2 separate regions of the Homo sapiens genome follow, and region 1 is linked to region 2. Evidence: fine-mapped expression QTL. A gene starts in region 2. The other region holds a variant in brackets. All regions are shown on one strand. Distances are from middle to middle.

Region 1 (2,913 bases), 31 kb before region 2:
GCCCTGTAGGAGTCTGCTGGCCATACATCTGGGTGTCAAATCAAGAGAGCATGAGAAGTTGGACAGGAAAGGTCCAAGGCAAAATGGTTACTAAAGGCCATCCCTGATCCTGACCCTAAAAGAAGAAAAGGCCCTTTGCTCTTGGCATGCTTTTGCAGGAGTGTCTCAGTCTGTTTGGGCTGCTATAACATTGACTGGGTGATCTGCCTGCCTGGCCTCCCAAAGTGCTGGGGTTACAGGTGTGAGCCGCTGCACCAGGCCTTGAGGTCAGGAGTTCGAGACCAGCCTGGCCAACATGGTGAAACCTGTCTTTACTAAAAATACAGAAATTAGCCAGGCATGGAGGCGCATGCCTGTAATCCCAGCTACTGGGGAGGCTGAGGCAGGAGAATCGCTTGAACCCAGAAGGTGGAGGTTGCGGTGAGCCCAGATAGTGCCATTGCACTCTAGCCTGGCCAACAAGAGTGAAACTCTGTCTCAAAAAATAAATAAACAAACAAACAAACAACAACGATGTGTTTCTTCATGGTTCTGGAGGCTGGGAAGTCTTTGATCAAGACGCCAGCAGATGTGGTGTCTATGGAGAGCCTGTGTTCTGGTTAGTGAGCAATACCTTCTCTCCGTGTTCTCACGTGGTAGAAGGGGAGAGGCAGCCCTCTGGGGCCTCTTTCATGAGGGCACTAATTCCATTCATGAGGGCTCCCCTCTCATGACCTAATCACTTCCCAATGGGCCCACCTGCTAATACCATCCATCGCCTTGAGGATTAGGTTTTTAATATATGAATTCTGGGGGACAAAAACATTTTGATCATAGCCAGAAGGTAAATCGGTGTTGCTCTAAACTAAGGAAACAGAGAGGACTCTGGGAAATGCTCCTCCCTCCCTGGGGCTCCTAAGCTTCTCAAATATTTTCATCATTGCCATATATCTCTCCTCAACCACGCTACAGCCCTGGATTAGAACATAGCATAGGCCACGACTTTCAATTTGCTTATAATCTGGTGTAGAGATTCATTCATTCACTTAATATACATGCAGCACCTACAATGTGCCATATATATATGCCAGAAAGGCAGAATATTTGCCAAACAAAAGGTGCAACTACTACATGCAATGAGATTTGGGAAGCTGTCTCTGAGGGCTGGATAGCCTGGGAAGGCTTTATCAAAAACTCGTGATTTGAAGTGGGACTTGTAAAATGGGTGGGATTTAGACTGGAGGAGAAGGAGGAGGTAATGCTGGAA[A/G]TACAGAGGTGTGAGTAGGAGACATGAGGGAATTCAAACTGGAAAGGGAGGTTCCAGGCCAAGCGTGGTGGCTCACGCCTGTAATCCCAGCACTTTGGGAGGCCGAGGCGGGCAGATCACTTGAGGTCAGGAGTTCAAGACCAGCCTCGCCAACATGGTGAAACACTGTCTCTACTAAAAATACAAAAATTAGCCGGGCATGGTTGCAGGCACCTGTAATCCCAGCTACTCGGGAGGCTGAGGCAGGAGAATCACTTGAACTGGGGAGGTGGAGGTTGCAGTGAGCCAAGATCATGCCACTGCACTCCAGCCTGGGTGACAGAGCAAGATTCTGCCTCAAACAAACAAACAACAAACAACAACAACAAAAATTTATACTTTAAAAGAGTGAATGCTGCTATGTAAATTCTATCTCGATTTTTTTAAAAAAATTAGACTATTTATTTATGATCCCTGAATGGAATTAAACTAAATGATAAAAATTTTCTTAAAATCAAGGTAGGAGTCACTTTTTAACCAAAGATTATATTCTTTTTTTTTCTCTTTTTTAACTTTTGTTTTAGGTTCAGGGGCTCATTATGCGGTTTTGTTATATAGGTAAACTCATGTCACGAGAATTTGGTGTACGAATATTTCATTACCCAGGTACTAAGTGTAGTACCTGATAGGTATTTTTAAAATATGGAACACTTCATGAATTTGCATGTCATCCTTATGCAGGGGACATGCTAATCTTCTCTGCATCATTCCAATTTTAGTATATGTGCTGCTGAAACTAGCACCAAAAGTTATATTCTACAGTGTAGGTCAAATGAAAATTGCATCTGATCTATGAATATTACTCTGGAAAAATCCCTTGAATTGTCCAGGGTATAGTAATAGTCAGGATTAATATATTCTTTACTGTATCTTAATAAACGCAGTGCAGCCAGTTTTTCCTCCAGCGTTGGAGTCCATCACTGTTGCTGTGGATCGGCAACAAATGAAGTCATTGGTTTGCATTTCAGGCCTCTACTGTATGAAAAATACAGGTTGTGTGAACATAGTTGACTTGTGAGAAATTAAAGACATAGATAATCCAATTTCCCTGAATTCTGTTTTTTGAGACTGAGTCTTGCTCTGTTGCCCAGGCTGGAGTGCAGTGGTATGAACTCCATACACTGCAACCTCCACCTCCTGGGCTCAAGTGATTCTCCTGCCTCAGCCTCTCGAGTAGCTGGGACTACAGGCATGCGCCACCACGCCTGATTTATTTTTATTTTTATTAGAGACAGTGTTTCTCCATGTTGGTCAGCCTGGTCTCGAACTCCTGACCTCAAATGATCCACCCGCCTCAGCCTACCAAAGTGCTGGGATTACAGGCGTGAGCCACCGCACCCAGGCTTGAATTCTTAAATTCTATTTCCTTCATACTATTTCATCTAATTCCTTTCCTCACTTGTATTTATCTTATGATTAAGTTATCCTATCTGGTCCTAGGGAACCTTAACATTCTTTAGGGCGGCCGCGGGGGACAAAGGGCGGGCGGATCCGCGGGGAGGGGGCGGGGCGCGGCCAGGCCAGGCCCGGGGTCTCCGCATGCTGCAGCTGCTCCCGGGTGCCCCCGCCGCCGCCCTCGCCGCGGAGCCGCGCGGAGCGGAGCCGGCGAGCTAACCCGAGCCAGCCGG
Region 2 (2,913 bases):
CCTCAGCCTCCCTAGTAGCTGGGACTATGGGTGGACGCCACCATGCCTGGCTAATTTTTGTGTTTTTAGTAGAGACGGGGTTTCTCCATGTTGGTCAGGCTGGTCTTGAACTCCTGACCTCAAGCAATTCACCCGCCTCTGCCTCTCTAAGTGCTGGGATTACAGACGTGAGCCACCGCGCCCAACAAGAGCAAAACTCCGTCTCAAAAAAAAAAAAACAAAAAAAAAACAATCCCATTTTGCAGGTTTTATAGAAGAAATTGGGACGCAGAAGTTAAGTTACTTCCGCAAGCTTACATGACTGCTCAGGGTGAGGGTCCCTGATCATGATGATCAGAAAATAAAGGTAGAAATCAAGCTTAGGGAGGAAGTGACATTGTGTGTATATATATATATTTGTTTATTTATTTTTATTTTTATGTTTTATTTTTTTGAAACGGAGCCTAGGTCGCCCAGGCTGGAGTGCAATGGCGCGATCTCGGCTTACGGCAACCTCTGCCTCCCGGGTTCAAGTGATTCTCCTGCCTCAGCCTCCCGAGTAGCTGGGAATACGGGCGCGTGCCACCATGCCCGGCTAATTTTTTGTATTTTTAGTAGAGACGGGATTTCACCGTGTTAGCCAGGATGGTCTGGATCTCCTGACCTGGTGATCCGCCCGCCTCGGCCTCCCAAAGTGTTGGGATTACAGGCATGAGCCACCGCGCCCGGCCGGGATTGTTTTTAAGGGTTAAATAAATATACCACAGTTGGAACACTGTCTGGCACATAGTGCTTGCCAAATGGTAACTATTCATCTTCATGGAATCAAGACTGTGGTGCCCCACTGCATGGTTCTCAGTTTTGCGTGAGAAAATCGTGCTTTCTGTGCTGTTTTTAGTACAAGAAGAGAAACCTGGAAGTCCCTGCCTAGAGGAGAGAAACAGGCAAGAAAAGGGAGTTGGCGAGTCCCAGCATTTCAGAGTTGGCAGGGACGAGTTAGGTCCCTATTTTATGGATGAGGAAGTGGAAGGGTGACGTGTCCTCGAGTCTCATTCAAGACCCACAGCCACAACTCTTTATGGAGAGTAGGACCAGGGCCCCAGGGTTGCTATGATCACGTTGCAGGTGAAAACTAACGCTCATTGGAAGACAGGAGCGGAGCACTGAGTTACAAAAACAGTTAACAATTTGGGTGTAACCAAGTTTAGTGAGCAAACGAAAGCTGTCAGACTCGGAAGAAGAGTTGCTAATGGAGCGAACTCTTTACTAATAACGGCTTTCTACAGAGATCATTGACACAGCTTCCAGTTACAAATGCCCGTGCGCTTCCAGTAGGACCGGAAAGCTCCCAGCAGCCAGCGATGAATGAAAACCCGAGTCTGGGATAGCGGCGTGAGGGGCTGGGCAGCTGCCAGGCGGGGGCGGGGCAGCAGGTCACGTGCCTGGCTTCGAGGCGGGCGCCGGAGGGGGAACTCTGACCATGATTGGTTCCTCCTAACCAGGTGACCGCAGGTCGCGTTCCGGTTGGCAGGCACCGGCCAGGGCCAGCGGCCTTCAGTCGGTAGGCGGCGGCGGAAGGAGGAGGAGCTCCAGCCGCGCTCTCTCCCGGCAGTGGCTGTGCTTCACAGCGCTTGTTGGGTTCCCCACCCCTTTTAAATAAGCCGGGCTGGTCACCGCCCTCGCAGACGAGTCAGCTTAAGGGAGGCGGCGGCAGCGCGGCGGTGGGGGTGCGGCCGAGGCCCGAGCCCTGCCCGGGGCCGGGCCGCGGGGCGGGCGGGCGAACCGCGGGCGAGGCGGCGTCTGCTTGCGCGGTGCAGCCCCAGCGTAGCCCGGGGCTGCCGGTGCCGGCCGCGCCATTGTTGGGGGAGGGGGCGGCTGTTGAGGGCGGCGGAGTAGGGGGCGAGCGAAGGCGGTGGCAGAGAGGAGCGGAGGCTTCCCATGGGGAACACGCTGACCTGTTGCGTGTCCCCCAATGCCAGCCCCAAGCTGGGCCGGCGCGCGGGGTCGGCGGAGCTGTACTGCGCGTCCGACATCTACGAGGCGGTGTCCGGGGACGCGGTGGCGGTAGCGCCCGCTGTGGTGGAGCCTGCCGAGTTGGATTTCGGAGAGGGCGAGGGCCACCACCTGCAGCACATCAGCGACCGCGAGATGCCCGAAGGTAAGGAGGCGGCGGATGCCATCCGCCCTCGGGCTCACCTCTGCCCGCCTCCTCCCCCAGAGTCCCCCGGGAGGCATCCGCCGCCTCGGGCTCCTTCCTGCCGGTAGCCGGCCCCGGGACGAAGGCTGGTTCTGCCTCGCGTCCCCACCCCTTATTCTTGCCCTGCTGCGTCTGGCCAGTTTCTTTTCCTCCTCCTTACCGTAACGCCCAGTTCTTGCTCCCGCTTCCCATTCTCCCAAGCCGGCGTGGGACCCTCTAGTCCGCCGCCCTTCTTGTTTGTAGCTCTGTTCATTGTCTGGTGGGACTTTGCTAAGACTTTTGGGGTATATTGTTTTCCTTTTCTCAATGGAAACTCAAATACCTCAACTTCGGAGTACTCATCCCATTCCCTCCCTTAACCCATCCAGATGGTACCTAAGTGAAGGAACCAGGTAAGGGTCTGATTGTTCCTTCCTCCCATCCGTGAAGATAGCTGATGCCCGCGACAGTTTAGACCCAGATGTTTGAGGATTTCTTATCTAGACTCAAAATAGAGGTTGCCATAGGAGACACTATATGGTATTCCTAATAGGTTAAGTCGGCGTGAAAGAAGCTGCTTTATTCCTTCCAACTATAATTTGAACACAGAAAGAAAGAAAATGGGGGGAGGGGCGTAAAATGACTGTGAAGGGTGTGAGAGGTTATTACCAGGGGTGCAGACAAGTTGTTTTTTTGAGACGGAATCTCGTTTTGTCGCCCGCCCAGGCTGGAGTGCAGTGGCGCGATCTCGGCTCGCT

Evidence for each region. PIP is the estimated chance that this variant, and not a neighbour inherited with it, causes the effect. A credible set is the group of variants that fine-mapping cannot tell apart.
Region 1: its variant is the best candidate, but not a certain one, in a credible set for the expression of CCNYL1 in transverse colon (CEDAR, PIP 0.55).

What each region holds. Positions count from the first base shown.
Region 1 is chr2:207,678,612-207,681,524 of GRCh38, forward strand. It overlaps LINC01857 (long intergenic non-protein coding RNA 1857), which reads left to right. Exons shown (of 4, transcript NR_135566.1): 4 at 1-511. It also overlaps the pseudogene RNU6-664P and the pseudogene PPP1R14BP2. Among named protein-coding and RNA genes, the nearest start is that of LINC01857, 18 kb to the left of the region's middle. The variant A/G (reference allele first, on the strand shown) is at 1,247.
Region 2 is chr2:207,709,980-207,712,892 of GRCh38, forward strand. It overlaps CCNYL1 (cyclin Y like 1), which reads left to right and starts at 1,661. Exons shown (of 10, transcript NM_001330218.2): 1 at 1,661-2,137. The coding sequence starts at 1,918. RefSeq lists enhancers at 853-1,052, 1,063-1,112, 1,465-2,461 and silencers at 1,333-1,782, 2,203-2,312, 2,325-2,484.